Linked DNA regions of Homo sapiens. The protein of the gene in region 4 interacts with the protein of the main gene of each other region in a pairwise test. Each region holds a gene or a part of one and is shown on either strand. Other genes may lie near its edges.

Evidence for each region.
Region 1: the proteins of CCDC6 (region 4) and RALBP1 interact in binary tests that used the Homo sapiens proteins (3 or more experiments, as listed by UniProt).
Region 2: the proteins of CCDC6 (region 4) and MAPK7 interact in binary tests that used the Homo sapiens proteins (3 or more experiments, as listed by UniProt).
Region 3: the proteins of CCDC6 (region 4) and HMG20A interact in binary tests that used the Homo sapiens proteins (3 or more experiments, as listed by UniProt).

Annotation. Positions count from the first base shown.
Region 1 is NC_000018.10:9,533,968-9,539,497, reverse strand, and holds the end of RALBP1 (ralA-binding protein 1), read right to left. Parts: intron 3,828-5,530; coding exon 3,561-3,827; 3' UTR 1,384-3,560; downstream 1-1,383. UniProt on the Homo sapiens protein: Multifunctional protein that functions as a downstream effector of RALA and RALB. As a GTPase-activating protein/GAP can inactivate CDC42 and RAC1 by stimulating their GTPase activity.
Region 2 is NC_000017.11:19,373,756-19,382,183, reverse strand, and holds the start of MAPK7 (mitogen-activated protein kinase 7), read right to left. Parts: upstream 3,687-8,428; 5' UTR 3,554-3,686; exon of another isoform or gene 3,289-3,553; 5' UTR 3,284-3,288; coding exon 3,052-3,283; intron 2,403-3,051; coding exon 2,237-2,402; intron 1,701-2,236; coding exon of another isoform or gene 1,683-1,700; intron 1,577-1,682; coding exon 498-1,576; intron 404-497; coding exon 1-403. UniProt on the Homo sapiens protein: Plays a role in various cellular processes such as proliferation, differentiation and cell survival. The upstream activator of MAPK7 is the MAPK kinase MAP2K5.
Region 3 is NC_000015.10:77,479,237-77,486,880, reverse strand, and holds the end of HMG20A (high mobility group protein 20A), read right to left. Parts: coding exon 7,566-7,644; 3' UTR 7,560-7,565; exon of another isoform or gene 3,912-7,559; 3' UTR 1,278-3,911; downstream 1-1,277. UniProt on the Homo sapiens protein: Plays a role in neuronal differentiation as chromatin-associated protein. Acts as inhibitor of HMG20B. Overcomes the repressive effects of the neuronal silencer REST and induces the activation of neuronal-specific genes.
Region 4 is NC_000010.11:59,903,557-59,911,276, forward strand, and holds the start of CCDC6 (coiled-coil domain-containing protein 6), read right to left. Parts: upstream 3,001-7,720; 5' UTR 2,869-3,000; coding exon 2,566-2,868; intron 1-2,565.

The DNA.
Region 1 (5,530 bases), on a different chromosome or scaffold from region 4:
AACATGATGACTAAGTCACGGATCATGTCCTGTAGGGAAAATGAATTGGAGTATGACGCCAAAAGCCCTATGCCAGGTACTTACTAGCCATTATTTATCTAAGCAGCCTTTGGAAATCAAGATTATCTCCACCATTTTGCCAATGAAAAAACTGAAGTTCAACAAGACTGCTTTTGAAGGTTATGAAGAAAACCCAGACTTTCCTGCCTACACTGGGTGCGGTGGCTCAAGCCTATAATCCCAGCACTTTGGGAGGCCGAGGTGGGTGGATTGCCTGAGCTCAGGAGTTCAAGACCAGCCTGAGCAATACGGTAAAACCCCGTCTCTACTAAAATACAAAAAATTAGCCAGGCATGGTAGTGGTGTGCACCTGTAGTCCCAGCTACTTGGGAGGCTGAGGCAGGAGAATTGCTTGAACTGGGAGGCAGAGGTTGCAGTGAGCTGAGATCACACCACTGCACTCCAACCTGGGCAACAGAGTGAGACTCTGTCTCCAAAAACAAACAAATAAAAAAAGCCTTTCCTGCCTAAAGTCCACGTTCCTTCCAGTACCCGCACTGTTTGTCTAGAAGCCAGTTTCTAGCACGAGACCCGGGAACAGCTCAGCACGATGTCCGGTCACAGCACTTGACACTTGAGCTAGGCGGTGGGAGCAGAGGTCGGATGTCCGAGATCTGCTGGGGCTGAACTGAACACCTGTTGAATCATGCTTGTCTAGTAACAGCAAAGTCACCAGAATGCAGAGAATGAGCATCCATCACTTTGCAGGTTCGGAGGACCCGGCATGTGACGGGCAGCAGTACTCTTCCTGCTCTGCAAAAGAGCCCCTACATGTGGCATTTAAGGGCTTTCTGCCCCCTCCTCTGCCCAGGCTTGCTATCACGTCTCCTGGGTCTCCTGGGATCTAGTCTAGAACATTCCAGGGGGCACTGCCCACCTTCCCTAAAAGCTGTGGGATCTTATGCTGAAGCCTCTGCCTGCTAATTGACTCCGGCTTTTCCTTCTATCCCTCATGAGAACCATGGGCCAGGGCTGAGGCTGAACACATGGAATTGGGCACGGGTCCCCATCGAGAGCTCCAGAAAGCCCAGGCTGCATCTTGCTCAGCCTGGCTGGACGCAGAAGGTGTGTTTGTTCTTAAGATATCCTAATACATAACAAGCAATGTGCTCTTCACAGAAACAGCTGCAGTGAAAAAAAAAAAAGATCACACAGCACTAGAGCCCATCTTGGGAGGTGACCTCAGGTCTCACACCTCAGTATCTCCAGATCCCCAATGCTAAATGTACCCCATCAGGGCGTTTGAGACTTTCCATCAAGGAGAATTTAGCTATATAAATTTAACATTATAGATTTAACTACACAAAACAGAGAAGTCAGCTGTTTGTCTAAGCTTTCAATGACAGATATTTTAATTGTGGAATTTTTAAAGCAAACAAAGCAATGGAAACTTCATTTTTATTCTAGACCAGTCTATCCCAGACATGCTGATTATGGTTGGCTGTGCTGAGTCCTCATTTACCGTATGAAATGCAAATGTCTGTCAATTGCAATGCCTGGGGCCAAGCCAGGCCAGTGGACTTGTGTGCAGTTCCCACCGGAGCCAGGAGCTGCTCAGACAGCAGACCCAGCCCAGTCCACTGGGTTTTGCAAACACAGGCTCCCTCTGCAGCAGCATGGGCTTGTGGAAGGGAGGCATGCCGCCGCCAGCATGCATGCCAGGGGTCCGGGGTTCTCCCCGTGTCTGCAGAGGTGAGGGGTACAAAGTGAGCTGGAAACAAAACACTGTGTTCCCCCTTGGCCTTGAAGAAGTGCCTCAACCAACTCCTCGCCAGCTGCAGAGTACTCAATCTCCTCACAGAAAGAATGTGTACAAAAAAACTAGAAGCTTTTCTTTTTCCCAAATGGCTGTTGAATTTATTTGCTTGATCAATAATGGTCCTGGCAAAAATTAGTTAACCAATGCTGAGACATTTGTAATGAAATACTAATTTTAAAAATCCATGACACCTTGATAGAAATTAGAGTTTACACAAACAAAAAAGGAACCTTCGATATTGCCAGCAGCTATAAAGTGAACGTACTGAGACCGACAGGACAGCAAGAAGGCATTTGCACATTTATATCTGACACCCGACCATACTTTCAGTCACCAGAATATCTTCTCTCCAGATTTAAAAAAATAGTATGCTGATTTCTATAACAAAGCTTTTTTTCGTACAAAAATCAAATAATGGCCAACGAGTCACAACAGTGCAATAGGTAGAGGATTAAAAACTGCATCAAACAGGTGCTGAAAATAAATACTACCTAGGAGAAGGAGGTGAGAGCCCTCGTGTGGGGTTTGTTTTCGACCCCTTGAGTGTGTGTGGGGTTTGTCTTCCGAGCCACGAGCCTGGCCTGTCTCGCGGTGCTGTTCACTCTGACAGAGTGCGCCTGCAGCACGTTGCCTCCAGGGCCCAGCCTCCCAGAAGCCTCAGAGCATCAGAGCATCCGTCTCATCGGATGGACCAGAAACAAGAAAATGGGGTGGGGTGAATCACAGCTATCATTCAAAGGAAAGGAATTTTTTTCTATTGCTCAATCTTGTCAATTGGGAGTCCACCAGTAGGTTCACTGAGATGATATGGATAATTTCAAACTTTTGTTTAAGAGCATATATATGGCTTATTCAGGCAAGGAGACGTGTACATTCTAGCCCAAGCAAGCAATCGGAGTCATTCTGTTTTTAAGGAAGGTCAGTCGTTTAAAAGATTTCTGGTTTGAACAACATCCTCTGTGGATGCACCAGGCCAAGGTGACTACCTTTGACCAACCCAGTGAGAAGGCCTTTGCTGGTCCCCGCAGTGAGGAACTGGCAGGAACGGGCAGCCTCCTCCCCGCTGGACTGCACTGCCGGGGGCCGGTGGGCAGGCTCCACAGGCAGCCCCTGTCTGTGGCCAGACAGGCCGTCCTGGTGACTCGGGCTTATAGACTGTGGTTTAGAACTGCAGAAGGAGAGAGGAGAGTGGGCCAGGGAACACCCACCAGGCGCTGCTCTGACCAGTCAGAGAACGTGAGGCAGCTCCCCCATAGGGATCTGCACCGAGAAGGTGTGGAAGGCACAAGCAAGAGTGACGGTACCAGAGATCCCAGAGGGCGTGGCTCGCGGCGGCCACAGCAGGCGCAGCGCTGACCTGGGGTGGTTCCCCCCTTGAATGAGAAAGAGATCCTGATTCTGCTGTGATAAAAAAGCAAAGAAAGACGGTTTTTGGTTTAAAAAGAAGCCACTCAAGGGTTAAAATAGTTATTTTAAGTTAACAAAGAAAATTAATCTTCAAATAAGCTGACACTATCTGGAAAACTCATCTGTCCCTAAAGCCCACAATGCGTCCACTGCTTCGTCCTCCCATGGAACCTGAGCCTGACGTGAAGGAGTCAGACGTGTGACAGAGGAAGAGTCTGAGAAGAGAAGACACCTTTACAGAATGTACAGCGAGAGAGCCGGCCTGGCCCCCGGGTTACAGTAAGATGCACGGGTCCTTTCAGTCTCACGGACTCCAGACGGCCACGCAGGCTGCTCAGATGGACGTCTCCTTCCTATCCCTGCTGGGCGATGGCTTTGCCGGCTCCTTGCCTGCCTTTGGCTGCTCTTTAGCTGCTTTTGGCTCAAGGACGCCGTCTCTGGGCGGCTGGACGGCACCCCCGCGCCACTCAGGCTCCTCGTCCTCCTGCGCCTGCTGCTCGGCCTTGGCTCGCTGCATCTGGAGCAGCCGCAGCTGCACGCGCAGCTCGATGATGGCCTCGCGCTCCTCATGAATTGCTTGATTCAAATGATTGTTCTTTATCTTGGGGAATGACAGAAAGGGCAGTTATCACTTAAGGAAGTCAGAGGACGATTTCTCAGGAGCAGAGCGCGGTTAGCAAGGGCATCCTACAGAGGAATCTGGTTTTGTTTAAGTCAATGGGTTGTGAAACAGAAGACAAACACAGCAGGAATGCACAGTGCACAGTGAGCCACGTGACTCCTGAGAATGTGAGGCTGGAAACCCTGCTCCTGGTTACTAGAGAGAAACACATCCATGTGCCAACAGAAACCGTTATTTTAATAATTCAGTATCCTAGTGTTTAAAATAGACAACTTATAACTTTGAACTGGCTTCTCAACAGCCCTTAAACAAGGAGAAAATAAAAGTAATTTTAGCAGCAATTAGAAAGGGGAGTTAGAGATCAGATAAAAAACTAGATTTGTTTCAAAGGTGAATATCCTTTGTCTTTTGTGAATAGTATTACGGTAATTCTGAAATGTCCTACTCAATCAAACTACAGAAAATTACTATCAATTCTAAATCATCTGGATGTACTCGGCAAAGTTTAGGTCCTGAGGAATAGCAGCGGCCCTGCTGCCGTGGCCTCCACTCTGTGGCAGGTGCCAGCCTCCCCTGCGTGGGTGTGGCATGGACTAGGCTCTGCGAAGGGGGCATAGGTGTAAGCGCAAGCACCGAGTGCCACGCATGCACCCTGCCCTTGGCGACTGGGCATGCCTTGATCCCTTCCCTGCTAACTTAGTCCTGCTAAGAGTGGCAAGACAGAGCAGCCACATTGGACCCTACATGGAAAAAAGTGGTGTGGAGGATGATGGGCTGGACCGCCTGCCACACAAGAGACACCATCTTGTTTAAACCACTATGTTATTCTCTTTATTACAGCAATTCAGCCTACACCCCAAGTACAATACTTCTGGATTCTGTTTTCCTACTCAGAGTTTTAATACGATCTTAAAATGTTAAGAAAAGAACATCAGGTGCCAATGTGAGGCCTTTCTGAACAGGAGCTCCAGCAACCCTGGTCTCAGCACCTGCAGGGCTTCCTCCCACAGCACATTCCTGCCGCAGCAAGGGTCTCTGCCTTGAACCTTCGTGGTTGCCTCTGAGCTCTGCCCGCAGGCTCGGCAGAGAGGACTCTGTGCAGGGTGGCTGTGTGTGGAATTCTGCTTTTCTATGCAGGGTGTAGTTCTGGTTCGCACCAGCCACTGAGCGAACCCAAATGAGGGATGCAGAGCTGTCCCTCTATCCTTAGATTCCTTTCTGTGAAGAGGGTATCTTCTCTCACTCAATCCTTAGGCAAAATATCTGGACACAATATTTTATTTGGGGTAAGAAGGGAAACTGTGATCTAGACCTTTATCTCTGCTGCCTTCTCTTCACTGTGCAGCCTCTCCTAGTTTCTTAGCGCCGATTCCCTCTCACCTGCTGCTTCTCGGGCTGAGGCCAAGAGAAACTCCGTCTCTTGCTTCACCCACAGGGAGACTCGGGAGACTGTTCTTCCATCACTAGCGCTGATTTTTCTGTTCACCTTCTCTGGGAACAGAGACTAGGTCATTCAAAGCTGCTCAAGCTGACACAGTCAGGTGAGGCTTGCCTTTACATCGGGTGGAGAAAGGTCTACATGTCACACTAAAGTCACAGAACTCCAGTTCACAGCCTGAGGAAGACACACAGGTGCCATCTGCTTGGCCAGCACTTAGCTCAAGTCCCACAGACTCTCGGTG
Region 2 (8,428 bases), on a different chromosome or scaffold from region 4:
GGGCCAGAGGTAGAGCCCGCAGATTGTGGTTGCGGGCCAGTGGGCTGGGCTACAGGGCCAGGAGGAGGACTGGTAGGTTGGACTGGGGTTGGGGTTGGCGTTGGCGCTGGGGCAGGGGCCGGCACAGAGGTGAGGGCTGGGGCTGCGGGCCGGGCCATTCGAGTCCAGCGTTCCAACAGGCTTCTGTCATTGTCACTGAGCACTAGTCCAGCCAAGGGGTCAGTGGAGGGGCCCCCAGAGGCCCCAGCCCCCCGTTCCTTTCGCTCCCGCTCCTGCCGCCGTTTCTCCCGCTCCTTGGCTCGTTCTTGCCGCCTCCGCCGCTTCTCCTCCCGCTCCCGCTGGCGCTCCTGGGCTGTCACCGGCTTCCGAGGCTCAGGAGCCTCCAGGGGTGCGCTGGGGCCATCTGCGGGGAAGTTGGGCAGGGGAGAAGGTAAAAGCCTGAAGCCTTGTCCAAGTCCAAGTCTCCCCTCTGCCCACCCGACCTGCCCACAAGGCACCTCTGAGCCGGCTCCTCAAAGACTTGAGCAGGGCAGCTTTAAGGGCAGCCTTAGTATTGTCTGAGATGGCACCATCTTTCTTTGGTGGGGCAGGCTCACTGACTGGTGGAGGTGGCTGCAGGGTCAGATCAATGGTGTCAGGTGCAGGGCCGGGGCATGGTGGCGGGGCTGGTGGTGGAGACTCCATGGCACAGTCCCCACTGGGAGCCCAGGGACTGGGCATTTCAACATCTGGACAGCCAGGCTCACTAGCCACAGGCTGTAGAGAAGGCTGGAAGCGGATCTGTTGGCGGATGCCCTCACGCCTTGCATGGAAGTCCTCAATTTCAGCCACAATGGCCTCCTTAATGCGCTCCCGAGTGAGGGCTTCGCGGTCAAAGGCAAAGTCAAAGGGCGGGGCACAGTCAGGCTCATCATCAGGATCATGGTACTTGGCCAGGAAAGGGTGGCGAAGGGCAGCAGCTGCTGAGATGCGAGCGCTGGGCTCAAAACGCAGCATGCGACCCAGCAGTGATAGGGCCTGGCGGTCGGCACCTGGGTACACTGTCTCCCAGGGCACAGGCTGGCGTGGTGGCAAGCTCTGGATATAGGCCCGCACCCTCTCAGCCCCCACAGCCTGAATCACGGCTGGTGATGGGGTACCCAGCACCATCATGATGAGCTGTAGCTGGTGTACATAGTTTTTGCCTGGGAAGAGCTGGCGCCGGGCCAGCATCTCACCAAAGATGCAGCCCACAGACCAGAGGTCAATAGCCTGTGTATACTCATGCAAAGAGAGCATGAGCTCGGGCGCACGGTACCAGCGCGTGGCCACATACTCAGTCATGAAGTACTGATGTTCAGCGGGCGAGGTGCACAGGCCACGAGCCATACCAAAGTCACCAATCTTGAGCTCACAGTTCTCATTCACCAATAGGTTGGAGGGCTTCAGGTCACGGTGGATGACCTGAGCCGAGTGCATGTACTTCAGGCCCCGCAGCAGTTGGTACAGGAAGTAGCGCACGTGTTCCAGTGTGAGGGGCTGTGAGGAGTGGATGATCTGGTGCAGGTCGCTTTCCATCAGGTCCAGGACCACGTAGCTGGAAGGGGAAGGAAGGAGAGAAGCATGGGTTGGCCTGATCACACTCCAGGGACAAGCCCCATCCTCACCACACCCTTCCGATTCCAGACAGGTAACAGCCTTACCCTGGGACCCCATAGGGGCTGACGGCATGGTATGGAAGAAGAGCATCACGTTTTAGATTCTCTACGACTTTTCCATGAACTTGGTTAAATCACTTTTGTCTCCAGACCTAGTTTCCCCATCAGATAAAAGATGGGGTTGGACTACACCAGGGCTGGCCAATAGGTTTCCTTTTGGGGCTATCTCCATTGTTTGGTAGTGGCAGCTTGAAGAACTATGATGAAAATTGACCAGGCTTGTCCACTGTCTGTAGGAAAGTGTTCTGTGATTGATTAGTGAAGTCTGCTATGGGAATAGGAGGGTGTGGTCATAGTAGGAATGTCCTACATTTGACATCCTATATACTAAGATTCTATAAAACTGTAAAATCATCTGTACACTTCTTGAGGAATAACAGTTGTCCCTGGCAAAACTCTAAAGAACTGGTCCTAGAACTGCGGGAATTTTCCCAGCCTGCTTCAGATTAGATTCAGCTGCCTTTCCAGAACTTCGGCAACATGGTTGCAGCCTTCAGAAAAGTCCCAAGTCTGGCTCCCTCTCCCATCCCGCTTCTTACACAGATTTGAATTCGCCATAGGGCACGGTGGGCCTCAGGATGTCCTTGATGGCGATGATGTTGTCGTGTTTAAAGTGCTTGAGGATCTTCAGCTCCCTGAGGGTCCGCTTGGCATTGGTCACCACATCGAAAGCATTAGGGATCTTCTTGATGGCCACCTGCTGGCCTGAGGAGCAGGGAAAAGGGACATACCAGAGGATACCTTGGAGAAACTGCAGAGTCGACTCAGCCCCTATCAACACCTCCCTTCTAGGATGCAAATGACAACAGCTACCAAGTATTGGGTACCTACTATGTGCCAAGCCCTGTGCTAAGCATGTTACCTACATTATTAAATGTTACCTTCACAACTCCCCTGCGGGGCAGGTCCCAATAGGTCAACGTTAAAGAGAAGGAAATATGGCTTAGTAACTTGTTGGAGGTTGCACGGATGCCCAGTGGTGTAGCTCAGCCTCTTATGCCTACACCCTCTCCATCTCAGACCTCACCCATCCCACCACCAGTTCCTTATGCCAGTGTCTGGCTCCAGAACACATTTCTCTCTTAGACACGAAGGACTGGCTCTCCATTCTGGTCTAACTGGGACTATCATTTTCCTAAGGAGGAAGTAGGCAGGCAGGATGGCAAAACCACCAGGCCGGAGTTTCAGAGAACCGAGCCTCCCCGGAGCCTGGCAGGCAGAAGGCCCTGGTCAGTGTGTGTTGACTGGAGCCAGAACTCGCACCCCGCTTTCCTTCCCGGCTGTCTGGGACAGGCCGGTTTCCCACTCCCTGCGACGCTGCCACATCTGGGAGGCGACGGCTCAGGAAGCTCACCGGTGAGGCGGCGGCGGGCGGAGGACACCACTCCATAGGCCCCGTTGCCTATGGTCTCGATGATCTCGTACTCGTCGCCCACGTCAAAGGTCACATCGAAGGAGCGGGCTTTAAGCAGGGCCAGGTTCTTGGCCGCTACAGAGGCAGCGGTGTGGGCGGGTTCGGCCTTCACGGGCCCGGGGGGCTCCGCAGAGCCGTCCTCGCCGTCTTCCTCCTTCAGAGGCTCGGCCATGGTGTCTGTGTGGAGACTCGGGTGAGGAGAGGACCACCTACCGTGGGCCTCAGTGTCCCCTCTGCGGGCTGGGGAGCAGGACCAGGGAACTTCCCAGTTTCCTAAACCGACAAGGGCAGAAGCGCGCGGCTGGTTCGTGGCAGACTAGCTACCCCAGGGGTCCGGGCCCAGAGCCGGGGGCCCGCCAGGGTCGGGGGAGGGGTAGGCGAGGCGCGGGCCAGGAAGAAAGGGAGGGGCGGGGCACCTGGGTTTCCTCAGGGCCGCACTCACCCCCGCGCCTCCTCAAGGCTTTCAGAGGTCCCGAGGCTCGCCGGCCTCCCGTCCCCAGCGCGGGGGTCTCCGAGGGTGGCTCACTTACTTGTTCAAAGGCCGCAGCCACCACCTCAGCGTCTTGAGCTGCCCTGTCCGTCCCCCTCCGCCCCGCCTCCCAAGGCCACGCTCCCTCCAGCTCCTGGCCAATCGCTGAGCTACTGCTGCGGAGGGTCCTGCCCCTTCTACCTACTGCGTCCAATCCTAGCCCACCGGCCGAGAAAGCCACGCCTGGCGCGCGCCGCTGTCCAGCTCGCCGGCGGGAGCCGCCCAAAGGGTGCCCGGCACTTCGCAGGGGTGTGCTCCCCGCCCTGCACCGCCTTCAAACGCATGCGCACTGGCAGTCGGGCGCCAAGTGAATGGAAGGCAACGCCCCTGCACGTAGCGCGCGCGTCCCCATGAAGCTCTCAACCTCATCCGGCCAATCACAGCTAGTCCCGTGAGCTCGGGGAACTGCCCGGCCTGAGATGCCCAGGTCTGGGACTGTTACCTTGGCTACTGGCTCCCGAAGTCCCCTTCCGCCCAGGGAATTGTGTCCGCCATTTGCTTGGTCCCAGGAGCTCTGGGAATGTGTCATCCCCGGTAGAGGGTGCCCGTCACGGCCAACCACAGAGATCCCGGTCCTCCGGGATTCTAGAGCGTCCGGCCGAACCCTCCACTGACTTCCGGTGGCTGAGCCTCTCCGCAGCTTCCGGCCAAGTTGGACTGCAGCTCGCGGTTTCCTGGCTTCTAGGTATCTTCCCTCCGCTCGTTTGTCTGTCCCGCGATTCCCGTGCTTTGGGCTGCAGCGGAGTTAACCGAGGCGGCCGCCCAACCTCTGCTCCTCTGCGGAGCCCGCGGGTGGGCGGAGCCCTCGCTGGAACCGAGCTGTCCCGACCCACCCCAAAATCCGATAGTTTATTCGTTCATTCATGTAGCAAATGTTTATGGAGCACCGCCCCTCTAAGGCTCAGTGCCGGGAGGCGAAGGTGGACATGGTGGATACTGTGAGCTGGAAGGAAAGGTTTTCTAAAGGGAGCTCGAGGTAGGGCCGAAAAGAAGTGAAGAATTTTGGTTTCACTCCTAGGCGGCTTCTAGAAAAAAGCAATATGTATGCATATTCGTACCTACCTCCCCTTTGGTGTACAAAAATGTAGCATATTATGCTCTTTTCCTGAAGATCATTCCATATCAATAACTGGAGGGGTCCCTCACTTTTAAACAACTTTTAATAACATACCATAAAACTCATCCTTTTATAGTGTACAATTCAGTGTTTTTTGGTATATTCACAGTTGAGCAGCCATCATCACTACCTAATTTTAGGTAGAGTGGTTTATGGAACATTTTCATCGCCCCTAAAAGAAACCTATGTGAACCAAGTATCTGAGACAAGTCTCAAGTCAATTTAGAAAGTTTATTTTGCCAATGTTAAGGACATGGTGGTGACAGCCTCAGGAGGTCCTACAACATGTGCCCAAGATGGTCGGGGCATAGTCAGCCTTTATACATTTCAGGAAGACATAATACATAAGTCAATACATGCAAGATTGACATTGATTTGATGTGCTTATTGGCCATTTGTCTCCTTTGGGGAAATGTCTGTTCAATGTCTATTCTGGAAGGGCGGGACAACTCAAAGGGGAGGGGCTTCCAAGTCACAGGTAGATTTAAACATATCCTGATTGGCAGTTGGTTACAAGAGTTATTATCTATAGAAAGGAATATCTGGGTTATGATAAGGGGTTGTGGAGACCTAGGGTTTTTTGGTTGTTTATTTTATTTTATTTTATTTTATTTTATTTTATTTTATTTTATTTTATTTGAAGAGTGAGTCTCACTCTGTTGCCCAGGCTGGAGTGCAGTGGTGCGATCTCGGCTCACTGCAACCTCCCCCTCCTGGTCTCCTGCCTCAGCCTCCCGAATAGCTGGGATCACAGGCATGAGCCATCAAGCCCGGCTTTTTTTTTTTTTTTTTTTTTTTTTTTGTATTTTAGTAGAGATGGGGTTTCACCCTGTTGGCCTGGCTGGTCTCGAACTCCTGACCTCAAGTCATCCACGCCCCCCTGCTCCCGGCCTCCCAAAGTGCTGGGATTACAGGCGTGAGCCACTGCACCTGGCCAGGAGACCTAGGTTTTATTATGCAGTTGAAGCCTCCCAGTAGCAGGCTATAGAGAGAATAGACAAATATTTCTTATCAGACTTAAGGTCAGTGTTGATGTTAATGTTGGAGGGGTATAATAAGGCATGTCCAACTCTCACCTCCCATCGTGGCCTGAACCAGTCTTTCAGGTTAAATTTTAGGGTGTGCTGGCCAAGGAGGGAGTCCATTCAGATGGTTGCAAAGGGCCTTCTAATTTTATTTTTGGTTTATACCCATTAACGGTCACTCCTCATTCCTCTTTCACCAGAGCCCTTGCAACCACTGAACTACTTTCTGTCTCTATGGACTTGCGTATTGTGGATGCTCTATACTAATGGAATCACACACTGTGTAGTCTTTTGTGTTTGGCTTATTTCACTTAGCATAAAGTTCATGTTGTCATATTAGCACTAATTTTTATGGCCAAATATATTGCATTGTTTAGATATACCATATTTTGTTTATCCATCAGTTTATGAACATTTGGGTTGTTTCAACTTTTTGGCTATTATGATAATGCTTCTGAGAACATTTGTTTACAAGTTTTTTTGTGGACATGTTTTCCTTTCTCTTGGGAGTGGGATTGCTGGGTCACATGGTAAACTATTAACTTCTTGAGAAAGTGCCAAGCTGTTTTCTCCAGCAGTTGCACCATTTTACAAATTCACCAGCAATATTTAAGAGTTCCGATTTCTCCACATCCTCACCAACACCTCTTTTCTTTTTCTGATACTGAGTCTCACTCTATCGCCCAGGCTGGAGTGCACTGGCACGATCTCGGCTCACTGCAACATCTGCACCCCAGGTTCAAGCAATTCTTCTCCCTCAGCTTCCCGAGTAGTTGGGATTACAGGTCCCCACCACCATGTCCAGCTAATTTTTATATTTTTATTAGAGATGGTCAGGCTGGTTTCGAACTCCTGACCTCAAGTGATCCACCTGCCTCAGCCTCCCAAAGTGCTGGGATTACAGGCATGAGCCACAGTACCCAGCCTTATTATTATTATTATTTTTTAATTATAGCCATCCTAGTGGGTGTGAAGTGATACGTCATTGTAGTTTTGATTTGCATTTCCCTAATGACTAAGGATGTTTTCACGGTTTATTGGCCATTTGTCTCCTTTGGGGAAATGTCTGTTCAATATCTATTCAAATCCTTTGACCTTTTTTTTTTTTCTTTTTGAGACAGGGTTTCACTCCAGCCCAGGCTAGAGTGCGGTGGTAGGATCTCAGCTCACTGCAGCCTCCGCCTCCCAAGCTCAAGTGATTCTCCTGCCTCAGCCTCTCAAGTAGCTAGGACTACAGGCACACATCATTGCACTCAGCTAATTTTTGTATTTTTAGCAGAGACAGGGTCTCACTGTGTTGGCCAGGCTAGTCTTGAACTCCTGAGCTCAAGTGATCGGCCTACGTCAGCCTCCCAAAGTGCTGGGATTACAGGCATGAGCCACCGCATCAGCCCTCTGTCCATTTTTAATTGGATTATTTGCCTTTTTATTGTTGAGCTGTCAGAGTTCTTTATATATTCTAAACAAAAGTCCCTTATCAGATGATTTACAGATACAGATATTACCTTATTAGATGATTTACAGATATTTACTTCCCATGATTTACAGATATTTACTTCCATTTCTCAGATCGTCTTTTCACTTTCTTGATAACATCCTCTGTTCCACAAAAGTTTTTAATTTTGATGAAGTCCAGTTATCTGTTTTGTCTTTTGTCACTTGTGCTATTGTCATATCTAAAAAAAAAGCACTCATTTTTACAGCTGCATGATATTCCTTTACGAATATAACCTATTTAACCAAGACCCCCTAGATAGACATTTAGATGAGTTCAGTTTTTTCACTATTGCAAACAATGCTGCAATAAATTTTCTTGAACACATCATTTTGCACACAGCAAGTGTATATGCAGGAAGAATACCAGAAGTGGGAGTGTCAAGTTAAAGAGTATTGTTCTTACAATTTTAGTAGCTAATGTCAAATTTCTATCCTTAGAGATTATACTGATTTAGACACCCACCAGTGGTATGAGAGAATGACTCACACGGTGCTTTTTAAAAGCTTGGAATTATTTGCCTGTCAAAAATGGGGAGATTTGCCATAAGAATCCTGATTTTTGCTTTCTTTTGGGAAATCAGATCAGCATTTCTACGTAGCCATCGAACTGTGACCCCGCCATTGAAAGAACATGTGCTCTCTAATTCACCACAGTCCCTGCCACTCCCTGACAGCCTCCCCAGCACAGGCCGAGGGTCAGATGCTACTTATCATTGTGCTTTCACAACTGTTTTCTACATCTTATTAAAAGCAGGAAAACAAAAGAGGCTGAGATGACATGTGTTTCAGGAAAAGAAAGACCAAGTATATCTTTTTGTGGGAACAAAGACAATCTCATGTGTTATATACAGATACTCCACTCACTTGGCTCACGTTTCCTGCATGGCCACAGTGGGCATTTGAGTTCAAGATTTCTGGTTTAGGTTACCAAAAGCCCCTGAACTAATGTAAATGTCTACCTAGGATTTTTGAGTAGACAAATGCCCTTCAGAGCTGCCTTCCTGAAAGGTATTTCTGGCAGACATCATGGAGGGTGTACTTGAAGGCAGAGCATGCCTTGATTAAAAGACAGACGTGGGATTGGGTGCGGTGACTCACGCCTGTAATCCCAGCACTCTAGGAGGCTGAGGCTGGGGGATCACCTGAGGT
Region 3 (7,644 bases), on a different chromosome or scaffold from region 4:
TGAGATACCCTGATAGTTACTGGCAATCATGTAACAGATACTTCCTATCTTCCTGTCCTCCAAGGCAAGGTGGATTCTGTTACCTTACTCTATCCTTCTTACAATAGTACAGGATTGCTGAGGCACGTGTTATGTCAGAAGAGGAAACTGGAGTTGAAACAAATCAAGACTTGCCCAATGCCACACAAATGGCTACTTGGAGAGCAGCAGGCTCTGGAAACCAGGTTGCCTCACCCCTAGGATTTTTAAAAGCATAGTAGAAATAGGTGACAAATTTCCTTTAAAAATATTTTGATTAGTTATTTTCAAAAAGCAAGCATTTGGCTGGGCGTGGTGGCTCATGCCTGTAATCCCAGCACTTTGGGAGGCCGAGGCTGGTGGATCACAAGGTCAGGAGTTCAAGACCAGCCTGGCCAACATGGTGAAACCCTGTCTCTACTAAAAATACAAAAATTAGCTGGGCATGGTGGCGTGCACCTGTAATCCCAGCTACTCGGGAGGCTGAGGCAGGAGAATCGCTTGAAACTGGAAGGCGGAGTTTGCAGTGAGCGGAGATCGTGCCACTGCACTCCAGGCTGGGCAACAAGAGCAAAACTCCATCTCAAAAAAAAAAAAAAAAAAGCAAGCATTTAAGCACATCTCCTTTCTTCTATCAAATGATCTTCTATCAAGGGGACATCAGAGTCACTGACTTTAAAAACATCCTTGTAAGTTGTCTTCAGAATACTACTGCTATATTAAAATGAATTAGAATTCACTGTATTGTTACAGCATACATTAAAAGAGCTGACTTCTCAAACCGGTAAAGATACATTTTGAAGTAGCAATTAGTAAAATGAATGTGTTACTGTTTTAAAAGCATAACAGATGTCATGATTAATGTAGAGTTGACAAAGTCTTTAAGAGGAAAAAACAGAAATAGAACTTTTTTATTTATTTTTTATTTTTTTGAGACGGAGTCTCGCTCTGTTGCCAGGCTGGAGTGCAGTGGCACGATCTCGGCTCACTGCAACCTCCACCTCCCAAGTTCAAGTGATTCTCCTGCCTAAGCCTCCTGAGTAGCTGGGACTACAGGCTCATGCCACCATGCCCGGCTAATTTTTGTATTTTTAGTAGAGACGGGGTTTCACCAGGTTGGCCAGGATGGTCTCGATTTCTTGACCTCGTGATCTGCCTGCCTTGGCCTTCCAAAGTGTTGGGATTACAGGCATGAGCCACCGTGCCCGGCCAGAGGTAGGACTTTTTGTTACAAAGCAAGTAAAATTGAAACAGGTGAATTCAACGTAGAAAAGTTTTAATGAGACAAATGTCAAACAAGCACATCAACTTCTTAAAAAACAAAGAAAATCTGAAAGTTTAATTACAAAAACACTTATACAGAAAACTTGGCATTTCAACAGTTCCAAACACATGTACACAAGTTTTTTCTAAAATCAGTCAGAAATAAAATACCTTGTCTCCCTTTCCTCAGCTGCTTCTTGTATTTTAATTAAAAAGAAACAAAGAAATCTGTAACACTGAATAGGCAACAACTTATTTCTTGAGAACATAAAAGTACAGTAATATCTACAGGTGTACTGGGAAACATGAGTTAGGTATTGTGCTAGCCTGTAACTTCATTTACTGCCTCCTCACTGAGCACAGAGGAGAGAGGAGGTGGCACAGACCTGGTCTATAGATACTGACAGTTTTGTGGCATCTGAATCCCAGCCACCAGAGGCAGGTGAGTAGCTACTGGGAAAGACAGCATTTCAGAAGCAAGCTGCTTATTTTGTGAAAATGATTTCATACTGTAGGCTCTCTTGAAATCTCATGCATTCCTGAATATGCAAATGTTTCAAGTCACTGTCAAGTGTCCCATCTAGAGTCAGAAGAATGATGATCCTGGACCATGTTATGGCCTTTTCTGGTCACAAAAGCAGTGCTAGCAATGCTGCACAAAACTGAACACAAATGAGAAACAGAAATATGAGGAGGAAGGAAGACAGGACACAAAGCATCTGGCAGAAGGAAAAAACAAAACTCCAGAATGGGCTCTGGATGTCCTTCTGCCATAGACAGTGAGTTCTAGCTTGGGCTTTGCAGACAAGGAGTCTAAGAGAAGTGGCAGAAATAGCAGATGATGGCAGGGAAATAGGAAAATACAGAAGAGCAAGAGAACTGGCTAGGTTTATAGCAATAGATAATAATGGGGTCTTATTCTAAAAAATTGCCAAGTGATGGTATGTGGGTTTCAGCGCATGGATATTTGATATATGTTCATATAAGACATTTTAAAAACAGATTTTGTTGCTGTTGTTTTCCTTTGGACTAATAAAGAAAACAGGCAAGGAGATGCTGAGAAGACAGGATGGTGTAGCAACATGACAGGTAGTTCTGCCCTATGCCCTGACTTATGGGCATACTATGAGAGGGGCCGCACTTCTATCCACCTGCCTGCAGTGGTGTGGGGCCCAGACAACGGGCTCTGCTTGCTCTGCCTTTGGTTCCAAAGATCTCAGCTGTAACCTTTAGCCTTGTGCTCTGCAGTGTCAAAACAAAAACAAAAACAAAAACAATGAACAACCAAAAAACCCTGAGGTAAGAATCAGAACCTCTCTTTCCTTTTGCTGTTAAAGGAACCAGAAACTGCTAGGCGTGATGCTTGAGCCCAAGAGTTGTAGGCTGTAGTGTGCTATGATAGCATCTGTGAATAGCCACCGCACTCCAGCCTGGGCAACACAGGAAGACCTCATCTGTAAACAAAACAAAACAAAACAAAACAAACAAAAATGAACCAGAAAGTCCTCTTTACTTATGCTGTTAAAGAAAAAATCACTAAGGAGGGGGAAGGAAGGGAAGCCTGTCTTCCTCACATGGATTCAGCAGTTAATGGCTACAGAAGGAAGACAAAGGACATGAGAATTCTTCCTTGCTTTTTTTGTGAGCTCAAGTGACTATTTTGAATGATATTTCCACCTATCTAGATCTATGAATCATTACTCCTAAAGAAGACAGGAATTCCCTCAGTTTTCACTTACAATAAACTTAGGGCTTTGTACTCTTTCCCTTTCTCCTCTGTTTACAAGTGACCTTTTCCTCAGCAAAAATGCTCCACAAGACATTGTCAACAGATGGGAACAGAAGAGCCTTGCTGGGGCTGGGACTCCATGTCTGTGCAGGAGCAATGCTTAGAAAACAGCAGGCAGTACCAGTGAGGAAGGAAAGAGCATTCTCCTTTAGGGCAGCAATCACAAAGCCACACTGAGGGCTGGCACCCACTGAGCACCGTGTGGGGTAGGAAACACAGCCTTGCTCCACAGGGCACTGTCAGCAAGAAGCTCCTTTCTTTGGAGTCACAGCAGGGCAATGATGGGAGAAGACTGGGCCTGTCCAATGCAAGAAACTCTCCTTCAGAACCTTGCTGAGCAACCAGTTAGTCCAGAGGTCAGAAAATGGAGATGTATAAATTGGTGGGGGCCAAGGAAAGCAAAAATAACCCCCAGAGGCATTTAAAAAAGTGACAGCTAGGTAAGAAAACTGGAGCTCCACTGATAAAAGGGTCTAAGCGAAATTACAATGAAAAGTCTTCCTTTCTGCAGCAGCAGATGTCAGCATCCGGGTCACCTAGTAAGCTGAAGATATGCAGATCCACTTTAACAGAAATGGAAATGGTAGGAACCTGAAGACCCGGGAGAGTGGCTGTACACCTTCAAAGCTTCACATAAGGACAATTCCATAGGAAGCTCATATACATGTTGCTGCTCCCTCATTTGGCTTCCTGGGGTGATGGCCTTTCACTCACTGATAATTCTTTCACAAGCAAAGGGATCTGCACTCTTTCTCTGCCCCCACTCAGTTCAAATTTCCATGGATGGCTTCTCATTCCTCACAAGTAAAAACACTTATGGAACATCTTGGAGTTCTAAGACCTGTAGAATCAGGAAAACAAAACAAAACAAAAACAAAAACAAACAAGGAAAATAACACCAAGAAAGTAAGTATTGAATGGAAGGGGTTAGCGCTATGGATTTTAAAAATGCTTTGGTTTCATAAGCGTTAAAGTGAGTGCAGGGTGTATGTAAACTGAAGAACTCATAAAGCTGTAAGCAGGCAACCTCATTGAGATGTTTTACATAACATTTCAATGAGAAACATGGCCCTGTTCCAGTTCAGCAACAATGGGAGGTAGGAAAATCATCAGCTAAACACAGAAAAGCAACTATCAGGGACAAACCTGAGGAGGGAAAATGAGTACCCTACTTTAGTCTGAAGAATGTATGGTCAATCAAAACCAATTTTCTTCAAGTGTTAACTAAGGATATCTGCATGTATAGAGATGTATTATGTGCATATAATCAAGAACATTTCTCATATTAATAAAAATACAGTCACATAAGATTTTTTTTCCCTAAACTCAAACAGCCAAATATTATCATTGAAATCAGGCAACATATGCATTTTAATAGTTTATATAAGGTAGTCACCTTTCAACTTAAAATCACCCTCATGGCCTCCTCCTAGCTCCACTTGTCTCTAGGTACTACTCAGCTACAAGAAAGGTGACAGACAGGTAGGGTAATTCTTCCACTGTATATTTATCAAAATAATTTTAAAATGAGCTAAAATTCTATAACATTATAATTCCTGGATTACAATTTTTATCTGTTTACTTCCTATGTATCTTAATGCTCTATTTCAGGATTTTTTAGTGCTTTCCCCTTCCCCCATCCACCTCTTCCTTAGAGCAATGTTTTAGAAACCCAGTGAATGAGAGAGTTTAGATATCTGTGGTTCTAGTCTTGGATTCTGTACTCATCTACGCAGATATTTTCAAGCAAGATGTTTCTCCTCTCTGGGATTCAGTTTCTTCATATATAAAATGTTAGATTTCTAAAGGTCCCTAATATGCTCCTCTGAAACTTGTAGACCATTAGCTTCCCTTCACTCACTGGCTCCTGACAGTGGATGAAAACTTTGCCAAACTCTTGTCAGAGTAATTAATTGCATCATGAGTGCTGGGGACATCAGCCTCGCTGTCTGTACATATTTGTATAATGAGGCCAAACCAGTATTAATCACAGTCTTTGTAATTGTTTCCTTTGACAGTTTTGGGGGTGTGGGGAACCATCTATTGTTAGTTATGTTTGCATGGCTAGACTGTAAGAATCTGTAGTAATATAACAGTTCACACTTTTAGCTATTTTTTCAGGGGCAAAATATTTGTAGGTTAAAATCAAGGATAATAGTAATATTCTAAGTTTTCAAAGACTCATCAGAAAACAAATAATATAGTTTATACTCTTGAGATGAAAAAAGCTTTAGGAGAGTCTTACTGGCAAAATGCTCAAAATGGAAAACCACTTTTGGGTCAATACTTAATTAGCTGCCCTGTATCTATGTGAAGAGACACGATGTTATCAATTAATGTTTTCTTTCACAATCTTCCACACTGTTTCTCCCAGCTCTCACTTTTCAAGCCTACAAGAGTGCTAATTGAAAACACTGTACGAAAATGGGAAGGATGATGAGCTCCTGAATATCCCAGGCCTAGATTTACAAGCTGTTCCCTTCATAAGCAGCAGCAGTAATGCCACTTCTTTATTCTGCAGGGAGTCCAGCCATCTCTAAGAAGTACAGTCCATTCCATCTGGCTACTCCCTAGAAGGATAGTAATCCTTTCCCCATCAGAGCATGGCTGAGGCTAAAATATAATGCATTGCCTTGTACAGTTACCATCCAAGGGCATCACCAAGAAGTATAAAGACTTCTGCCTTTGTCTTTACTAGGCATTTATCTTTATATATGTTGCTCAAAGTCCAAACCAAACCAGAATATAAATTATGTATATGAGTGTGCTCATGTACTCACAGGACAAATAAAGATTCAAACCCATGACCATTCTAAGGAACATATCCTGCTGTTGACTCTTATTTTAGTATCCATATATGGCCACCTCATTGTAGAGTCTAATCTTAAAATTTCCACACAGTTTATATGTCTGCAGGTATGGAATAACTTAACCAATAGAGCAAAGGGATGCCAGTTTTGTGGGATGGCATAGTAAAGGGGTATCCTATCTCTAGGAATTTGAATGAATAAATACCAATTCCATTTGAGAAATGACCATTAGTACCAAAAAGTGTCATGGGTAGATCTCTTCTGGAAAAAAAAAAAAAAAAGGATACATACTACTGCTCATTTGTTGAACATATTTTTTAAAAACTTATTTTCTCTCTCTTTTTTGCTTATTGAGAATTTTATATTTTTATTTTGTTTTTTTTTTTTTTGAGACAGAATCTTGCTCTGTTACCCTGGCTAGAATACACTAGTGTGACCCTAGCTTACTGAAACCTGAACTCCTGGGATTAAGTGATCCTCCTGCCTCAGCCTCCTGAGTAGCTAGGACTATAGGTGTGCGCCATCATGCTCAGCTAATTTTTTTCATTTTTTTTTAAAGCAGGGGTCTCACTATTTTGCCCAAGCTGGTCTTGAACTCCTGGGCTCAGGCAATACTGCCTCAACCTCCCAAAGTGCTAGGACTACAGGTGTGAGCCACTGTGCCCCACCAAGAGTTTATTTATTTTTTATTTAAAAAAATTTTTGAGACAGTGTCTTGCTCTGTCACCCAGGCTGGCATGCAGTGGTCTGATAATGGCTCACTGCAGCCTCGCCTTGACCTTCTAAGCCCAAGTGATCCTCCCACTTTAGCCTCCCAAGCAGCTGGGACCACAAGCGCATACCACCATGCCTGGCTAATTTTTTGTATTTTTTGTAGATACGGGGTTTTGTCATGTTGCCCAGACTGGTCTTGAACCTGGACTCCAGCGATCTGCCTGCCTTGACCTCCCAAACTGCTAGGCTTACAGGTGTGAGCCATTGCACCTGGCTGAAGAGTTTATTTTTTAATCTATCAAAACCAGGGAGTTACCTGTTTGTATGGTGAGTCCACATCAACATTTAACAGACAACAGTCACTGTGTTATTGAGTGGTGAATATAAAAGCTTCCTACTTATGTAGGCTCACATACATACAATGTCTCACTGACTACTTCTAAATTATCATTAGTATTTTCCAGAGAAAAGGAAGATTAAAAATTAAGTTATATTTATTTTGTTCTGAGTGCTGTTTTGGGGATGATTTCTTCTAAGTTTCCCACTCACTTTTCAAAACCTTTTGGGAAACTAATGCCCAAGAATACAGCTAATAAGTGACAAAGCTAGAAATGAGGTCAAGCCACAAAAACCATGCTTTTCCCATTAAACCATTCTGAAGCAAGCATAAGAAAAAACTGTCTTGAGTCTGTTTTCTTTTATTTTTAGAGACAGGATCTCTCTGGACTTGAACTGCTGGGCTCAAGCAATCCTCCCACCTCAGCCTCCCAAGTAGCTGGGACTACAGTGATTCTCTTTTCTAATATTATTTACTACATTTAACAACCATGCAACAGGAATCTTAACCAAGTCTCCAACTTGTTCATCCAATGTAATCCCAGGGTTTTAGTAGTATTGATAAAGTCTGATGACATCTTATTTTTGATGATGTGCTGGCATATAAATATTTATCAGTGAGCACTCACCATTCCCTAACGATCGAGTCTGTTCACAACTTCTCGAACTGTAGCTATGAAGTTTTCATTGTCTTGGGGATTAGCTAAAATAATA
Region 4 (7,720 bases):
CAAGGAAAAAGAAGGCCACAATCACCTTTAGTGCCCAAGGACATGAACGTTAATATCATAATTAGAACTAAAAAGAGCCAGGAAGGCAATTACCAGAATTATGGTACCATCTTCCCTTCAAATTAACTAAAATAGTGAAAAATCTAACAAGGCCTTCACTTAATTATCAGAAACTTCCTAGCCTGCCACTAGCAAGGGTAATGCTTAAGTCAGCGATGTCAGGGATTGTACAGCTTAACCTTGACATAAACTACTTAAGTGTTGTTCAATGGACTCTACATTCACAGGCCCATTTCATGGAGTCACATAAATTTCTCCTCCCGCATTACATACCTGAGAGGTCAAACGTACCACCACAGAATCTGGATCCTAGGTCAGTTAACAAAACCTGCAAAATCTTGAAGGAATCTGTTTTCTGCATTTATCATTCAGCTCCTTAGTAACAACTGCCAAGTATTAGGAAACCAGGCGAACCACAAGCACTTTTTTATGTGTCTCCCTGAATATATTAGTCAGAAATTAAAGAAGAACTGAGAGGCTTCTGGTACTTGTGCAGTGTCATCTAAAACAATGTTAACTTTACTCATTAACACCACACGACATTTCACAAAGTATATTCGGTTGGATGTCAGTGTAGTTAAGGGTAAGTGCTAAGAAAGCAAGCCACCACCTTATACGCTCTTCTAGCCAAGTACTCAGAAGGCCTCTGATCTTAAACACCGGGAATGAACACATTTGTTCCTGCAAAGCCAACATGTTTAAGCACAATTTACAAACCTAGTTATAATACGGTCTAAGTGTCAAACAGATAACCCTTTCATAGTCTCTGCATCCCTCATTCCTCCCTCCCAAACAAAACCAGCCTGAATTGCCCACTGCATGCAAAAGGCTATTTTGCTTCATGCAAGTCTTACTACTTTCCATGGCTCACAGTCTCCAAGAGACTAACCCTCTCATTTACTAACTCAAACCTTAAACTGCCTCCAACAACTTCCCTCTCTTCTTAACCCCCACTCAGCAAAGACATCTCTGTCAGCGAAGAAAGCTGCATAGGAGGCTTGGAAGTGGCTGCCTCTGCAAATTCCCCGCCCCCCACCTTCCTACCAAAAGGGCACTTCAAGAACTTTACCATCTCACATGAAAGTTGCTCCAATTCCATTCTCCAAAATTGGATTTGAGCATGAAAAGTTTCTTTTTACAATCAACTGCTATTTAGGCTACTGATCACACTTAACTTGCAACTTGCTTTCTACACAAATTAAGAATGCCATCTAGTTCTCATGTATGAGCCAGCACTGGGGGTGTACACACGCGTGCGCACACATATACACAGCCTCCTCCACCGAAGGCATTTCCTGGCACAAGGGGCATCCTAAACTTGCTCCATTTCCAAGGTGTGACCCTCTATCCCCAAATTCATCCCTTTTTCTTCATTTCAAAGTTCAGCCTAATCCGCTATTTTGCAGCAGCTATGGCCATTTATCCCCCTTGATTTCTTGACATCATCTTCTCTGCTTCTGGCTGGGGAACTTTTGATTTGAATACAGTTGTCTGTGTGGGGATCCTTCATGTTAATGATGTGGTGAGCTGGCAGGGATGATAGGTGAGAGTACACAGTGTACTTTTTCTAGTTACGTTTCGCCTCATCACTGCTATAGGGGCCTTTCTAAACGCCTGCCACACCAGGAGAGAGACCTACAGACCCAAGCTTACCCGTTTCTGGGCAGCCTCCAGGGGACAGGTAGAAACAGAACAGATGGCCTGTTCTCCAGTATCTAGACTCAGAAGCAAGATACTTCTAACCACTCCACGAATGAAGCAAACACACGTACCTCTGGCTCAGCCAGGGAGTCACAGTCACTACCCTTCCCCTGGTTTCGGCCCCAGCCCTGTCCAGGCGTGGATGCTGCACTCTCCTCGCTGTAAACCGTCCACCCTCCCAACCCAAAGCAAAGAGCTTCCAACAGAGGTGGGAGCATTAGCGCCGTACCCGCCCTTCCCTCTCGATCCCGGCCAGAAAACTCCACTTCCCGGATTCCCGGCCACTCTCTCCCGCCCCCTCCCCGGGCGATCCAGCTAGCGCAGTCCAGATGCCAGCTTAGTGCCCAGTCCAGCTGCGAACCCCCACACTCCGAGCCAGGACCCAGTAAGAGATCCCAGCTTCCTCCCTCTTCCAGGACTGGGGTTCCCCAGATTCTGGACGCACCCCTCAAACATGCTAGGGCTGAAAAAAGTCCTACCCCGCCCCCCAGCCACGCCGCCAGCCTCCAGCCCAGCCCCGGAGGGGCCTCCTCTCCAGAGGCTAAAAGGGACCATGAATGGTTGCCACAGTAGCCTTCCCCCGCACCGCGCAAGGGTCCTCAGACCCCCGAGGAGGACAGACCCGCGTGGCCCCGAAGGGATACCTCCCTCTCCTCCCGGAAGCCAGCAGGTCCCCGCAGGGAGTGTGCTCTCAGAGGGTCCCCGGGAATCTGGGGAAGACTTGGGGGGTGGCTGGATTCGGGTGCAGCCCCTCCCGGGGCGGGCGGAGGTCGGCGCTGCGGCGCGTCCCCGGGGGGCACTCACGATGGTCACGCTGGCTTTGCGCAGGTCGCGGTTCTCCTCCTGCAGTGCCTTGCACTTCAGTTTGTAGGTCTCCAGCTCTATCTTCAGCACCTTGTTCTCTTGCTGCAGCGAGGCCAGGCGGTTGGTGAGCTCCTCCAGGCGGAACGGCGAGATGACAATGCCCCCCGACTTCCCACCGCCGCCGCCTCCCCCGCCGCCACCGCCGCCGCCCGAGGTCGACGAGCAGGACGACTGCATGGCGGCCGAGCTGCTGCTGTTGCCCCCCGCCCCGTCCGTGTCGCTCTCGCTGGCGCTGTCCGCCATGGCCGCGGCGGGCTGGGGAAAGGAGGAGGAGCAGCAGGGAGGCGGCGGCGACGAAGGCCGGGCTGCGAATGAGTGGGCGCCGGGCGAGCACAGGGGAGCGCCGAGCTGAGCGCCTGGCACCAGGGCGCAGACTCGGAGCGGCGGCGAGAGAAAGAGAGGGCGCTTCCCGCTGCCAAGGGACCTCCTCTGCCAGAGAACAGAGACCCCGCCCGGGCTTGGGCAGTATTGCACTGGGGCTCGCTCCAGCCGGGCTGGGCGCGCTCCCTAGGCCGCCCAGCAAAGCTGGCTGAAAGCTCCGGGACCCGCCCGCCGCCGTCTGGTGACCACGGGCGGGCTGGGAACGCGCAGGCACTGCGGGTGCGGGAAAGCCAAGGACTGCCCCCGCACCACCAGCTCGCCAGCCACACGTGTTCCAAGGGAGGGCCTCCGAGCCCCCTGATCTAAGCCCACGGCCGCCCAGCCTCTTCCGGGCTCGCGCCCGCCCCGAGAAAAAGGAAACCTGATGCCCCACCAGCCTCGCAGGTGCCGGGGACACGTGGAAAGGTCAGCCGGGCTCCGGCACCCATCCTCTACCGTGTTGTGGCCCCATCTTCCGCCGACTGTGTGTGCGCGTGTCTCCCTCTATCTGTTTCACACATACACGCAGTTTTATATTCTCAAAAGCAAGGTGTTTTTGACTAGGAAGGCTTGGATAAACCTAAGAGAACAAAGTTCCTCTACAAGAGGCCGAGGAGGATGAAACAACAGCAGCCACAGGTTAACCTTGTTAAGTAAGAATTTGCAGGAGAGACACACATCTCCTTTAATAACCTCATAAACCACACTGCGCTCAATTGTTTAAACAAGGTGCAACTGTTTTTTTCTTTTTCTCTTTGCATTTTGCAAACATTTCCAGCACATGTCTCGTAGTAGGATTAAGACAGTAACATTTACCTAATGAAGAAAAAAAAAAAGGAAGGCGAAACACTTTTAGTAGAAGATTGAAACACCTCTTTAAGTGCCAATTTTCCAAAGTAACTGCGGACATAACATTATGCTATACAAATAGTAATGATTGAGTGGGAGTGCAACATCACCCGTCTTTGCTATCCTCTTGCTCACTCCTAGAAAACTTTAGCATGTAAAAATAAAACAGTAATTACTGTAATGCGGTCTAATTCATGGTTCTAGCTTTGCAGTTTAAGAAATTAAAAATCAAAAACTTTTATTCCCCCTTCCTCTTCCCAAAGAAAGGCTTGCAGGAAATTGGCCCAGCAGGTGAGATGATTCTAAACACTTTGCCCTGTTGACACAAAACAGCTTTCACTTATGTATAAAAATTGGAAAGTGAAACTGACCAGACTAGTTTTATTACCCACGCTTAGTTAACATTACAACAAACACATGGTAATAGAAAATAGAAAAAAAAGTGTAATTTTTTTTTCTGTTGGGTTGAACTTTCTGAAAGATTTCTAAAGTGTTAGGAAGAAAGAAGAATGATTCTTATTCCCACTCCCTCATTATCTTTAAACCTAAATTTGATCTCATGATTAAACGGTGATTCAATGGCTCTTGGAAACTGGCACCTCAGAATAAACTCGAAAACACCAAGTGTTCCAAATGACATCATCTTTCACCAAGATGGCTGCTTTTAGCAAACAGCTTAAATGCCAACAGCAACTAAACCCCAGTTTCTCCCAGGTATTTTTTAGCTTAGTGCTGGAGGGCTTCTGAACTCTGTCACTGTTTGTATAGCAGGAGGGAGGAAATGCTTGGCTTTGCTCTTGAGAAACATATAGGCAATCTAAATCATTCTGTTACAAGTGATCCAGTTTAATTTGCACTGAAACTTAGTTCTCTCACTTTTTTGGGATCTAGTACATGAGACAATGAGTTAAATTGGAAACGGATTCTGGAAAGCTCACTTGAGGGTTGAAATGGAAGAGTAAAGCTAGCAGGGAGAAGCACCACAGGGGGAAACAGATTTAACAACATTCTTTCCCCTTTATTCAGCACTGTGATCGAATCTTAAGAGTAGGTCTGGCTGCCATACCTCACAAGTTTCTATTGCTCCCTATTCCATATTATCTTAAAGCTTCCACTTTTAGAGCTTATTGCAACAGGAACATTCCTTCCAGGCAGAGCAGGGGGCAAATTAACTCTCTCTTAGCGTCACCACAAAACTAACCGCCTTGGAAAGGCGGACTCACACTGCTTCAAGTCAGCAGAGGGGTGGAGTTTGAAGCGCCTGGTTTTCTTAAAGGGCCCAAGTCATGGTTAAGCTTAAGAATGTAGTGGCCTTCAGTGGAATTTGGAGGAAATTTGCATTTTGACATGGGACTTGTAGGTAGTAATCGTGGTTAGAAGACTTTAGGGAGAAAGCCATCTTCTAAAGCTTCCCTGCTGATACAGATGGGAATAAACTGGAGAATATTTTTTCACCGCGGTTTTTATTGTTATTGCAAAGCAGAAGCGTGTCTAATTTTCTACTTCTTGTAAAAGTGATTTCCCTTATAAACAGATCATTTATCACAACACTGGTTCCGTAATAGCATTACAATGGAAACACCAGTTACAAAACCAATAATATCATTATAAAATTCCTTCTCAGCTTTCTAGGGGAAATGAATCACAAGAACAAATGGTAGTATGTGCTGCCTGGAGGAAGAAGGGACAGATTTAGGTAATCACCTCCTTTGGAGAAATAATGAAATTTAGCTTTGCCCTCAATTTAAGCTGCAAAAACACATGAACAAAGGAAAAGAATACCTTGTAGTCTAACTGCAAGGCGCAACATCAAGATTTTTATTTGTCTAGTGCCATTTTTGCAAATCACTTACTCTATGGCCTTGGAACTTTAGTGTTTACAACAATAAAATAAAATAATAATGGCATAAATCATAGAGCAATTTTGTTAATTTTTAATATATATAAACAAATTGCTGTACATATCCAGTTACATTAATGTCAGATCTGAGTAATTTTATTCAAATTCTAAATGGATTTAGTTGTTGCAGGACCCACCATTACAGTTTTGAAAAAAATTAGGGTGAGCCAAGTATGAGCGGGATGTCACAGTGTCAGAAGTTGGATAGAAATATAGAAGAATGTGTCCATGTAGCCCTATCATTTCTCCTCCTTCTTTTTTTTTTTTAAGAGGCTAGGTCTCTCTATGTTGACCAGTCTCGTCTTGAATTCCTGGCTTTGAACTCCTGGCCTCAAGTGATCCTCCTGCCTTGGATTCCCAAAGTGTTGGGATGACCGGCGAGAGCCACTGTGCCCAGCCTAGGGCTATCATTTCTTGAAAAGTAGTTGATAGTTTCTTTATCTAATTACACCTTTAATTTAGAAGCTTTGTCTAGGTCTAGCAAGGCATTTCTGAACACTGACATTTGAGACTGGGTAATTTTTTGTTGTAGGGAGCTGTCCTGTGCATTGTAGGATGTTTAGCAGCCTCCCTAGCCTTTACCTAGTAGATTCCAGTAGTATGCCAGCCAAAAAATGTCTTCAGACATTGCCAAATATCCCCTGGGCAGCAAAATTACCTCCAGTTTGGAACCACTGAACTAGTAAAACAAAAGACAGCCCCATTTTGGAGTGGTTACACACTGATTAGATACCACTGAGTCACCAACAGAATTTCCTTCTCATTTTATCTTCTCAGTGTCAATTAGACAAGAGATCCTGGGCCCAAACAACCATATCCACACTTTATACTATTGCTGTCTTTAGCCACTCTATTTCTTTTTTTTTTTTTTCTTTTTTCTTTTTGAAGACCAAATTTCGCTCTATCACCCAGGCTGGAGTGCAATGGCACAATCTCTGCTCACTGCAACCTCCACCTCCTGGGTTCAAGCGATTCTCCTGCCTCAGCCTCCCGAGTAGCTGGGACTACAGGCACCAGCCACCACACCCAGCTAGTTTTTTGTATTTTCAGTAGAGACCAGGTTTCACCATGTTGGCCAGGCTTGTCTGAAACTCCTGACCTCAGGTGATCCACCCACCTCAGCCTCCCAAAGTAGGGGGATTACAGGCATGAGCCACCATGCCCGGCCCAGCCACTCTATTTCTACAACATGTTTTTTCAATATTTTACACTTTTTAACATTAAACTAGCCTTGCACATGCAACATCTCAACTTGTCAAGAGATCATGACTACAAGATTAATTACATATCTCATCCCTATGCTCCTGTTTTTATTCACTCATTATTGCTTCACAGGAACCAAAGCCATTAATACAGATGACAGTCTAAAGAAATAAGTCATCAGCTAAAGTAAATCATTTGAGAAGTAAGAATATCAGGCTGGGGGCAGTGGCTCATGCCTGTAATCCCAGCAATTTGGGAGGCTGAAGCAGGCGGATCACCTGAGGTCAGGAGTTTGAGACCAGCCTGACCAACATGGTGAAACCCCATCTCTACTAAAAATACAAAATTAGCTGGGCATGGTGGCACATGCCTGTAATCCCAGCTACTCGGGAGGCTGAGGCAGGACAATTGCTTGAACCCAGGAGGTGGAGGTTGCAGTGAGCCGAGAACACGTCACTGCACTCCAGCCTGGGCAACAAATGTGAAATTCAGTCTCGAAAAAAAAAAAAACAAAACACATATGATTTATGTGTCTGGAGCTTTGGCAGCCAGTAACATCTAAAACTTTGCCTGACACAGAACATCTAGAATTGCTGACCAGGAAATGCTGCTTTAATCCTATTCAATACACAGCAGAACTCAAAGAAAGTAAAGAGAAATCCCAGGCTCCAGTAGCAAAGAGGAAAATGAAACAACCCAAATGTCTGACTATAATACAAATCCTGTTGCGTTTGTGCAGTGGAATAATAACAGTAATGAGAATGAACAAACTGTGGCTACATG